Regions from separate parts of the Homo sapiens genome. Here region 2 is reported to be linked to region 1. Evidence: microRNA targets listed by miRTarBase, many of them from high-throughput screens and not tested one by one. Region 1 holds a microRNA gene; the other region holds the end of a gene's coding sequence.

Region 1 (5,075 bases):
GACTGTTTTATATTATTATTGAAGTTATATTTATTAAATATAATGTCTATAATATTTTAGTTTCGTTCCACATCTCTTTGAAATGAATGTATATCGAGAGGGTTAACTGTGCACACGAAGCTCTGAAACATGATGAAAGGTGTCATATAGATTTATGAAGATACGAGCTAACCCATAGCTGTCGCTGTTCTGGCACCAAGAGTTAAATGTTCATGTGAAAGTTGGCGCAGAAAACACCACTGTACATACTCCACAGAGGACATCCAAGTGCATGTAAGAAAAATGCTCCTTTGGGAATACGTGGACATATTCCTTTGGAAATACACTGACAAACCTACATACGTGTTTAAGGTGCCTTCAAAAAGAGTTATGTAAACATTCTCTTTGGGGCGGGTGCAGTCAGTCATAAGCATTTATTGAGTACCTACTGGGTACAGGCCATAGGGCTCTCTGACCGGGGCTAACCTTCATTTCAAATCTTTCCTAATTTTGCAGTTGGAAGAAGTTGTGGGAATTACGCCGATGGCCCGAAATCAAGGCAGAGGCGAACGTTCTGAAAATTACATAACTCCTGGGAGAGACCGTGCTTTTGCAGATTGCCTAAATATTTTCTTTCTCCGTCGGCTCCTTGTAACCTCTGAGGCCAATAGACAACTTTGTTTCCCAGCCCTTCTCCCTCTTTTGTCTGCTCGTCAGACTCGTTTTCCACCTTTGTATCGTTCCTTTTAGACGTGAAAACAAACATGCGAACGCCCGGTTGGCAAGGAGACAGCGGCCCGGGGGGAAAGTGCAGGTTCCGGCCGCCCCACGCCGCCGCGCTCCGAGCGGCCGCCGAGCCGCCCCGGCCCCGGCCCCGGCCCCAGCCTTAGCCCAAGCCCGGCTGGGTCCCGCGAGGCTGCGCCGGGGCGGGCGGCGGCGGCCCGGGGACGAGTCCAGTCCGCGTTTTGCGAGTGCGCGGGAGTAATGCGAGCGAAGTGGATAATAGTTGCTCGAGCTCGCCCGCTGCCTCTCAAGCCATGCTGGGCCCGATAGGCTCAGCTAGTCGTGTATTTACCCATATCCGGGCTAGAGAGGAAAAGAGAAAAGTTTCATTTAAACCTGAACTAAAAACTTTCACCATGAAAGCACACAGCAGGAGCAGGCCCAGAGCGTAAGGCGTGCCCGGCCCGGCGCTCCGGCGGGGCCTGCGGAGGGGGAGGGGGTCGCGGCTTCCCGGCGGGCCGCGTGGATGCGCACAGGAGGGGCCGCGGCCTGAAAAGTGGGGGTTATTGTCTCCCCCCGCCCCCCGCCCGGCCTCGCCACGCCGCGGCGATCATGGCCGCGCGGGCAGCAGCGGCGGCGGCGGCGGCGGCGGCGCGGGCGCGGGCGCGGGCAGGCAGCGGCGAACGGCGGGCGCCCCCCGGGCCGCGGCCGGCGCCCGGAGCCCGGGACCTGGAGGCGGGGGCGCGCGGCGCGGCGGCGGCGGCGGCGGCACCGGGACCCATGCTGGGGGGCGGCGGCGACGGCGGCGGCGGCCTGAACAGTGTGCACCACCACCCCCTGCTCCCCCGTCACGAACTCAACATGGCCCATAACGCGGGCGCCGCGGCCGCCGCCGGCACCCACAGCGCCAAGAGCGGCGGCTCCGAGGCGGCTCTCAAGGAGGGTGGAAGCGCCGCCGCGCTGTCCTCCTCCTCCTCCTCCTCCGCGGCGGCAGCGGCGGCATCCTCTTCCTCCTCGTCGGGCCCGGGCTCGGCCATGGAGACGGGGCTGCTCCCCAACCACAAACTGAAAACCGTTGGCGAAGCCCCCGCCGCGCCGCCCCACCAGCAGCACCACCACCACCACCATGCCCACCACCACCACCACCATGCCCACCACCTCCACCACCACCACGCACTACAGCAGCAGCTAAACCAGTTCCAGCAGCAGCAGCAGCAGCAGCAACAGCAGCAGCAGCAGCAGCAGCAACAGCAACATCCCATTTCCAACAACAACAGCTTGGGCGGCGCGGGCGGCGGCGCGCCTCAGCCCGGCCCCGACATGGAGCAGCCGCAACATGGAGGCGCCAAGGACAGTGCTGCGGGCGGCCAGGCCGACCCCCCGGGCCCGCCGCTGCTGAGCAAGCCGGGCGACGAGGACGACGCGCCGCCCAAGATGGGGGAGCCGGCGGGCGGCCGCTACGAGCACCCGGGCTTGGGCGCCCTGGGCACGCAGCAGCCGCCGGTCGCCGTGCCCGGGGGCGGCGGCGGCCCGGCGGCCGTCCCGGAGTTTAATAATTACTATGGCAGCGCTGCCCCTGCGAGCGGCGGCCCCGGCGGCCGCGCTGGGCCTTGCTTTGATCAACATGGCGGACAACAAAGCCCCGGGATGGGGATGATGCACTCCGCCTCCGCCGCCGCCGCCGGGGCCCCCGGCAGCATGGACCCCCTGCAGAACTCCCACGAAGGGTACCCCAACAGCCAGTGCAACCATTATCCGGGCTACAGCCGGCCCGGCGCGGGCGGCGGCGGCGGCGGCGGCGGCGGAGGAGGAGGAGGCAGCGGAGGAGGAGGAGGAGGAGGAGGAGCAGGAGCAGGAGGAGCAGGAGCGGGAGCTGTGGCGGCGGCGGCCGCGGCGGCGGCGGCAGCAGCAGGAGGCGGCGGCGGCGGCGGCTATGGGGGCTCGTCCGCGGGGTACGGGGTGCTGAGCTCCCCCCGGCAGCAGGGCGGCGGCATGATGATGGGCCCCGGGGGCGGCGGGGCCGCGAGCCTCAGCAAGGCGGCCGCCGGCTCGGCGGCGGGGGGCTTCCAGCGCTTCGCCGGCCAGAACCAGCACCCGTCGGGGGCCACCCCGACCCTCAATCAGCTGCTCACCTCGCCCAGCCCCATGATGCGGAGCTACGGCGGCAGCTACCCCGAGTACAGCAGCCCCAGCGCGCCGCCGCCGCCGCCGTCGCAGCCCCAGTCCCAGGCGGCGGCGGCGGGGGCGGCGGCGGGCGGCCAGCAGGCGGCCGCGGGCATGGGCTTGGGCAAGGACATGGGCGCCCAGTACGCCGCTGCCAGCCCGGCCTGGGCGGCCGCGCAACAAAGGAGTCACCCGGCGATGAGCCCCGGCACCCCCGGACCGACCATGGGCAGATCCCAGGTAACCCTCGCGCCAGCCGGGCCTGCTTCCGCCCGGCGGCCTCGCCGCGCCGCGAGCCTGAGTTTCTTTCTTTGCCGCGTACTTTTCCCCGTCTTCCCGCGGGGGCGGCGGGGGCGCGGCGCCCAAAGCCATCTTGACGGGCGGCCGCCTCCCGCCGCGGTCGGGGCGCCCCGGGGGCCGGCGCGCTGTCCAGGCCTGGGAGGGCTTCGCCGGGCCGGGCCGGGCCGGGTGGCTTCTACCCCGCCGGCCCGCACCCGCGTCCCCCCCCTCCCCCAGGCCCGGGAACGCGAAGCGAGATCCCGAGGCGCCACCCGCGCGGTCGCCGTTTGGGGCGGCGGGGACCGTTCGGGTGCTTTTGTAACAAATAGGCTCTCCCGGCCAGGACGGCTGGGGCGAAGAGCCACCCGATCGGTTCTGGGAGCGCCCACAATGTGCTTTAACGGGGGAAAGAATGAGGAACTTTCTCACACCTTTAGCCACAGCACGTTCCCTCTTGGCTTCCGAGGTCCAGGCAGGGAAAATAGGTTAGCTTTGTGACAAGCGAGTGGGTTTTTCCTACTTAGGGAGAGCCATTCAGAGACACTCGGTGCGGGCTTCGAGCTCGAACGTTTGCTGGTAGGAATAATAACAAAATTTACAACGACATGGAGGTGCAATATTGTAAAATACATCGATTCGTTCCTTAGAATAGCCAGGGAAATCCATTATTGGGCTTACGGGCTGCTTGCAGGGAGTCACCTTCAACAGGCAGGCTATGTGAAAGGAGCACGTTCCGGATCAATTGAACTTATTTTGATCATGGATTAGGCATGCATTTTATTCAGCAAATCCAGTAAGATAGCAGACCAGTGAAAATTGATCTTTTGGGATCGTATTTATTTGGATTTTCTTTATTTTGCTGTCACCCGAGTCCTACAGCGCTGTTAGGAAGTGTCCTGCACTCTTGCTGTTTCTTGCTAGTAGGCTGAGCCTAAAGACTGACTTGATCTCCTTTGCAAGGTTTGGAATTTGAATTGTGGAGGTAAACTGGCTGTAATAGTCTCCAGACAGCTGCCTCTGAGTTGACATCTAATCTGCCATCTGATTGGCTCCCCTCTCACCATTGGGCATTTAGCACTGCTGATGTAAATAGAAGTGCTGAGCAGTACAGTCACAAAAATTCTTGCCACAAATAATAACTGAGCTCTATTACAAGCAAATGTAAGGTTCAGTATTTAAAGCTGAAACTATTATGAATCATAGTTATTAATAAGAGGATCAAATACAGAAAAACAGTTCGCTGGTGTCCAGTATTGGGCATTTACAAAATTCAGATCTTTGATGATAGTCTTAGAATATGCACATTACATATATCATAGACTTTAATTGGAGGCTGAGGATAAGGCCATTGAAAAATAAGTAAACCACGAATTTTACCAATTTTTGGATTTGTAAAGCCTTTATAAAAGTCTTCCCTTTACAAATTCAACTATGGAAAAATTTGAATTCTGTCAGCACACGCAGCTTAATAAAACCTTAAAATTTTTTTAAGATTTTGATAGGCAGCAATATATTTTGGTGATGTGTAATTCACCTGATAAACAAGATTTAAGCTTCATTTTTTTGTGATTTATCAGTTCTGACTGTTCAAAGATATTTGTGGATGAGGAGTTTTGGTTAGAATTGACATATTTAAAAAACGAAATGAGGAAACCACATATTTGTGCAGATAACAATAATTAAAAGGGGAAAAATGAGATATTCCTGTGAAATACTAAGAATCATTTCATATTTGCTTTTGATGTGGAGAATACAGAAATGCCCCATAATCTTTTTTTTTTCTTCATTGTTTTGTTAGATTAGGTAATTTGAGCCTTGTTTGAACTGCTTACACGATGAATTAGGGAAACTATATTCTAAGCAAGTTGTGCTGGGTGTCTTTTTTTCCAAATAATTTTTCTTTCATGTTAATGCTATGAAAGTTTAAAAAA
Region 2 (5,070 bases), not on the chromosome of region 1:
TTATCTGAGGTAAGAGATCTAGGTCAAATGCATATCTTAATCAGCTATAAGTAATGTATCTGTTGTCTTGCACTCTCATGGGACAATCTAAAGTACAAAATTATGAGAATAACTTTTAACCTATATAGTTCCTTTGGAAAAGGTTTGAGAAACAAGTCTCTGAAGCTCAGCCATGAAAAAGATCCAGAGAAGAGGATTAATTTTGGGTAGAGTCAAATAATAAGTTTCTTTGTCCTCCTGGTGCTGTGTTCAATCTCCTGAAAGAGCTCATCACTCATGGCCCGACTATGGTAAGTTCCCAAGAATCCTGAGGGACCTATAGAGACTGGAAAATAGGAAATAGTCTGTAGGCTTCATTACATAGTGATTATGTAAATGAAGATACAGGATGGTCAAAGTGGGTAACCTCAAGAGTTTCTTGAGGATGAATTGTGCAACAGAAGCCAACACTACAGGCATATCTTAGACCATTTACTTCAAAAAGAATCTTTGACAGAAGGAAGCAATGAAATTTTCTAGGAGCTATAGCAGCTGCTATAGGAATAAAACATTTTCTTTTTTGTTTTGTTTTGTTTTTATTTTTGGTTTTTGAGACCTAGTCTTGCTCTGTTGCCCAGGCTGGAGTGCAGTGGCGCAATCTCAGCTCACTGCAAGCTCCGCCTCCCGGGTTCACGCTATTCTCCTGCCTCAGCCTCCCGAGTAGCTTATGGGAATAGAAGCTACTATGACATAGCATTTGTATTAATGAGTAAGCACTTTCTCCATTTTTATAGTAATTTTGGGGTATACTGTAGTCAGTGTTTCTATAGTGAAGAATCAGCCTCTGGAACAATTCAATGAAGTGATTTTCCTAGGTTACTGAGTAGGGTAACAACTCAGTTGGACAGCTTAGCCCTTTCACACCTCTGATGACTCTGATCCAAGCATTTATGGAGAAACACTTGTCTTTCAATGGTGTCTCGGGAAAGAAACAACTACTCATCTTAGCCGGTAACTATGTCATATCAGGATTTAACTGTAATATTTATTAAAATTTCAAGGACCTGAAATACGTACATACATATAAATCTAGATAATGACATGCCAAATTATAGCACAGTCATGATATATAATTTTAGCATGAAAGTACATATTTCATTTATGTACAAATATCTCAAAGATTTGGTACAATAAGCATTAATTAAGAGTTGACTATAAAGATGTCTTCTATATTACTGATATACTAAATATGAACTACTAAATTTTACAAATAATTTGTGAGGCTTTTATTATATTCAGAATACCTTTTGACTTAAAACTGAAATAATATAAATGTTATAAGGACAACAAAATACAGTCATTGCTCTAATGCAATCATGTTCCTGAACACATCTGGACAATTTCATAGAAATATATATATATATATATATATATACACACACACACGCACATATATATATTTCATACATACATGTATATATATACACATACATATATATTTCATTTGTCTTGATTGACATAAAAATCATATATTTTCACAAGATGTAACTATTTTGATGTTGTAATTTTGTGAACCACCTAGTTACTAACTTTTACAGGCAAAATATTTTTCCAATGCTTTAAAAATCATTGTCTAATGAGACTCTTCCTTTACAGAGGCATATTTAAACCTGCAAAGTAATTTGTCCACATTATTGGTAATATGAACATTTTCAAATAGTAAAATAAATTCATATAATTTGCTTGGGTTTCATGCATATGAAATCTAATAAAAATACTTTTATGAATTAAAAAATTTGTTTTTCATATTAAGGTACAATATATACAGATTGACATAGTCAAATGACATTTATAATTCTATGAAAAATTAATAGTTATAGGTAATAAGATATAGACATTGTAGAAATCAAAGATAATAGAATGATGGTCAAATCCATCCAATTTAGATTTCAGACAGAAATTGGGTGGCTATTCTGTTGTATTTATGTGCTTAAAGACTTGCAAAATTTTTTCTTCATCTTTTATACATAAAAATATTATTTTCCTGCATTCATTAAAAATACAGAAGTAATGATTGTTTATATACTTAATGATATCCTTTTAAGTATGTAAGCACAAAAAGATAGGCTTATTTATTTATTTTAAAATAAAAAGAATGACAGTAGGATTGAGACTGCCATTTTTAAGTGAGGGGTTTTTAGTACATATGTGCCAGTTAATAATCCTCCTCACCTAAGAAAAATTTGAGTTACAGATATCTCTAAGAGTTTAAAAAAATACATCTCAGGTACTCTTTTTATATTATCCATTGCATCTCTGAGTTGTGTATATTCTCTTCTATAATATTAATTATTTTTATATATATAATTTTTGGAGATGGTGGTCTTGCTCTGTCGCCCAGGCTGGAGTGCAGTAGTGCGATCTCAGCTCACTGCAACCTCCGCCTCCTGGATTCAAGCGATTCTCCTGCCTTAGCTTCCTGGGTAGCTGGGACTACAGGTACACACCACCACACCCAGCTAATTTTTGTATTTTTAGTAGAGACAGGGTTTCACCATGTTGGCCAGGATGGTCTCCATCTACCGACCTCAAGATCTGCCCATCTCGGCCTCCTGAAGTGCTGGGATTACAGGCAATTTTTTTTTTTTAATAAAATGGAATTTAAGCCTGTAATGTCTTTTTAAGGAATCAAAAGTGGTCATGTGATAAATATGATACATAGATACATAATATATATTTTTTCCAGTTTTAAGAAGTTTTGTTAAGAAGGTTTTAAAAATATTTTAAATGCAACAAGTTTAAAGATAATAAAAGCCACAAGTATTCTAGTTATATGAGATTATTCTTTAGTCAAACAAAACCATCTATATTATAAATCTTGTGAAACAACTTGAGTATCAAAGTACTTCCAGTATGCATTAATTTAATAAGTTTCAAAGTCAGAATTCTAGTCCAACTGAAATATCTGTAGTCACATTATCAGGCTTTTCATAGCTTCACACTTTTAAACAACATTTTAAAAGTTAAATCAACATAATATATCCAAAAATTCAACCAATATCTATTTACAAACATTTACTTAAAACTAATTTTCATCAAATCAATTGTGGTTTTTGTTGGTTTGTTTTTTGAGACAGAGTTTCGCTCTTTGTTGCCCAGGCTGGAGTGCAGTGGTGCGATCTTGGCTCACTGGAACCTCTGCCTCCCAGGTTCAAGGGATTCTCCTGCCTCAGCTTCCCAAGTAACTGGGATTACAGGTGCCCGCCACCATGCCTGGCTAATTTTTGTATTTTTAGTGGAGACAGGGTTTTACCATGCTGGCCAGGCTGGTCATGAACTCCTGACCTCAGGTGATCCACCTGCCTTGGCCTGCCAAAGTGCTGAGATTACAGGTGTGAGCCACCGTGCCCGGCCAAATAAATTGTGTTTTAAATAAAGTTAACATAAATTGACTAGAGTATACTGTGTAAATTATTGTACACATTAATCAAAACTAATATCCATGCATGCTGAATCTCTTAAAATAGTCACTTTATCACCTAATGCAAGTTTTCATATATATATTCGACTGCATTTTGTGATTTTTACCCGCCAATTTTTTTCAAGCCTATATAACTTACACCTTTACAATGGGACAGTTAAACTTCAGATAAAAAAACTGGTAACATTTTCTTTTTTTTAAAAGTATTTTGAATGTGTATCCATTTATTAATATTTACTAAACTTATAACTGAAAACTTTTATTAAAACAGCTAACGTTAGTGGTTTACTATGCATTTTATAAAGGAGAACGTAAGTGTTTGTTAAGTTGAAGATCACTGTGCACACCTTACATTTCAACATTTCAAGATATTCAATCATTCAAATATCCATTAAGTACTTACTGTATGTCTAGCACTATTCTAGGTGTTGCACAATTTAATATGTTTCAATATTTCAACCATATGATATTTTGGTATCTTTTATGCTGTGTGAAACTTTTATATGCTTTTTAGATTATTCAGTCCTTTATAATTTAAATGTTTCCTCCTTCCCAAACGTAGCTATTACTGTTTATAAAGGAGGCACCTATTTTTCCTTTAAATTATATATATATATATATTTTGAAGTTAATGACTAAAATTCACTGCTATTTCCCACCTCTCCCAACCTGCAATCCTTCTCCCAACCTCTGGCACTTGAGCAACAAAGATTAAGGTAATGCTAACCCATGAAAGTTTTTCTTTAAAAAAAAAAATCAAGCATGGACAAAAATCTTCTATCAGAATGGATTGAGTCGTATTCCAGTCCCTAAAGGTGAGAATGGATTCACCTTTGCCCACATCAAAGCATCATTCAAGGAGATAGCAGATTTCCCGTCTTCAAGGAAAAACACAGGGCCCTGCACAGTGAGAGTTGAGGAAAGAGAAGATGAGATTATAAATTTGCAAAGTATTTTTAAACTTTCAGAAAGAGAATCACTGCAATAAAAAAAAACATAATATTTAGGCAAAGCTAATAAAAAAATGAAGACTATGAGAAAATTAGTTTTTTTGAGCTGGACCCAAATATAGAAACATTTTCAAATGTCTTAACATTATGTCATTATACCCTAATATCTGTTAAAATAGAATTGTTTACAATTTAAATTCTTTAAATACAATAGTAATGCCAATGACAAATATGTTTTGTTAATCTGGTAACTGCCACAAAGTTTACCTATTCTATAAAAGCATATATGTCTAGTAATAGGCTTAAATATATTTCACTATTTTACTCATGTAGCCTATGTCGATACAGCTGGGGAAATTATTTAAGCCAGAAACTTTATATGTGCTCTCCAGAAGATGATGAATATTGTTCTATATTGTATATATCGTTTAAAATATGTTTAGCCATGTGATTTTCTTGCTTATTTATAATTTAGTTGCATCAGTTATGATATATGCCAGGGTAGTTATAAAGAACTAAATGTGAAATGTTTTCAGTCTATATTACCTAGCTCTGATAAGGAAAAGCATAATTTCAAAAACACAAGATGCAATACAAATTATGTTTTCTTAATTAGGTTCTAAAGCTGTTGAGTTTGGGGTCTGATTTCAAATGATACAA

The links. Region 1 holds the annotated microRNA hsa-miR-4466 (GGGUGCGGGCCGGCGGGG, at 3,344-3,361, opposite strand). A microRNA usually pairs through its seed, bases 2 to 8, with sites in the 3' UTR of a target mRNA and lowers its output. Matches are read on the target gene's strand: a 7mer-m8 pairs with bases 2 to 8, a 7mer-A1 pairs with bases 2 to 7 and ends in A, and an 8mer does both.
Region 2: the mRNA of WDR17 is a reported target of hsa-miR-4466. Seed matches in the 3' UTR shown: 7mer-A1 at 3,151-3,157.

The regions. Positions count from the first base shown.
Region 1 is chr6:156,776,367-156,781,441 of GRCh38, forward strand. It overlaps MIR4466 (microRNA 4466), which reads right to left and starts at 3,365; the gene lies at 3,312-3,365. ARID1B (AT-rich interaction domain 1B) reads left to right here and starts at 1,012. Exons shown (of 20, transcript NM_001374828.1): 1 at 1,012-3,105. The coding sequence starts at 1,315. It overlaps LOC115308161 (a long non-coding RNA gene), which reads right to left and starts at 2,152. Exons shown (of 2, transcript NR_163974.1): 1 at 1,880-2,152; 2 at 1-1,065. RefSeq lists silencers at 736-1,085, 1,106-1,345, 1,496-1,645, 1,716-1,785, 2,036-2,265 and 3 more and an enhancer at 2,229-2,764.
Region 2 is chr4:176,178,750-176,183,819 of GRCh38, reverse strand. WDR17 (WD repeat domain 17) reads right to left here. Exons shown (of 29, transcript NM_181265.4): 29 at 1,005-4,360. The coding sequence ends at 4,241. Among named protein-coding and RNA genes, the nearest start is that of SPATA4, 14 kb to the left of the region's middle.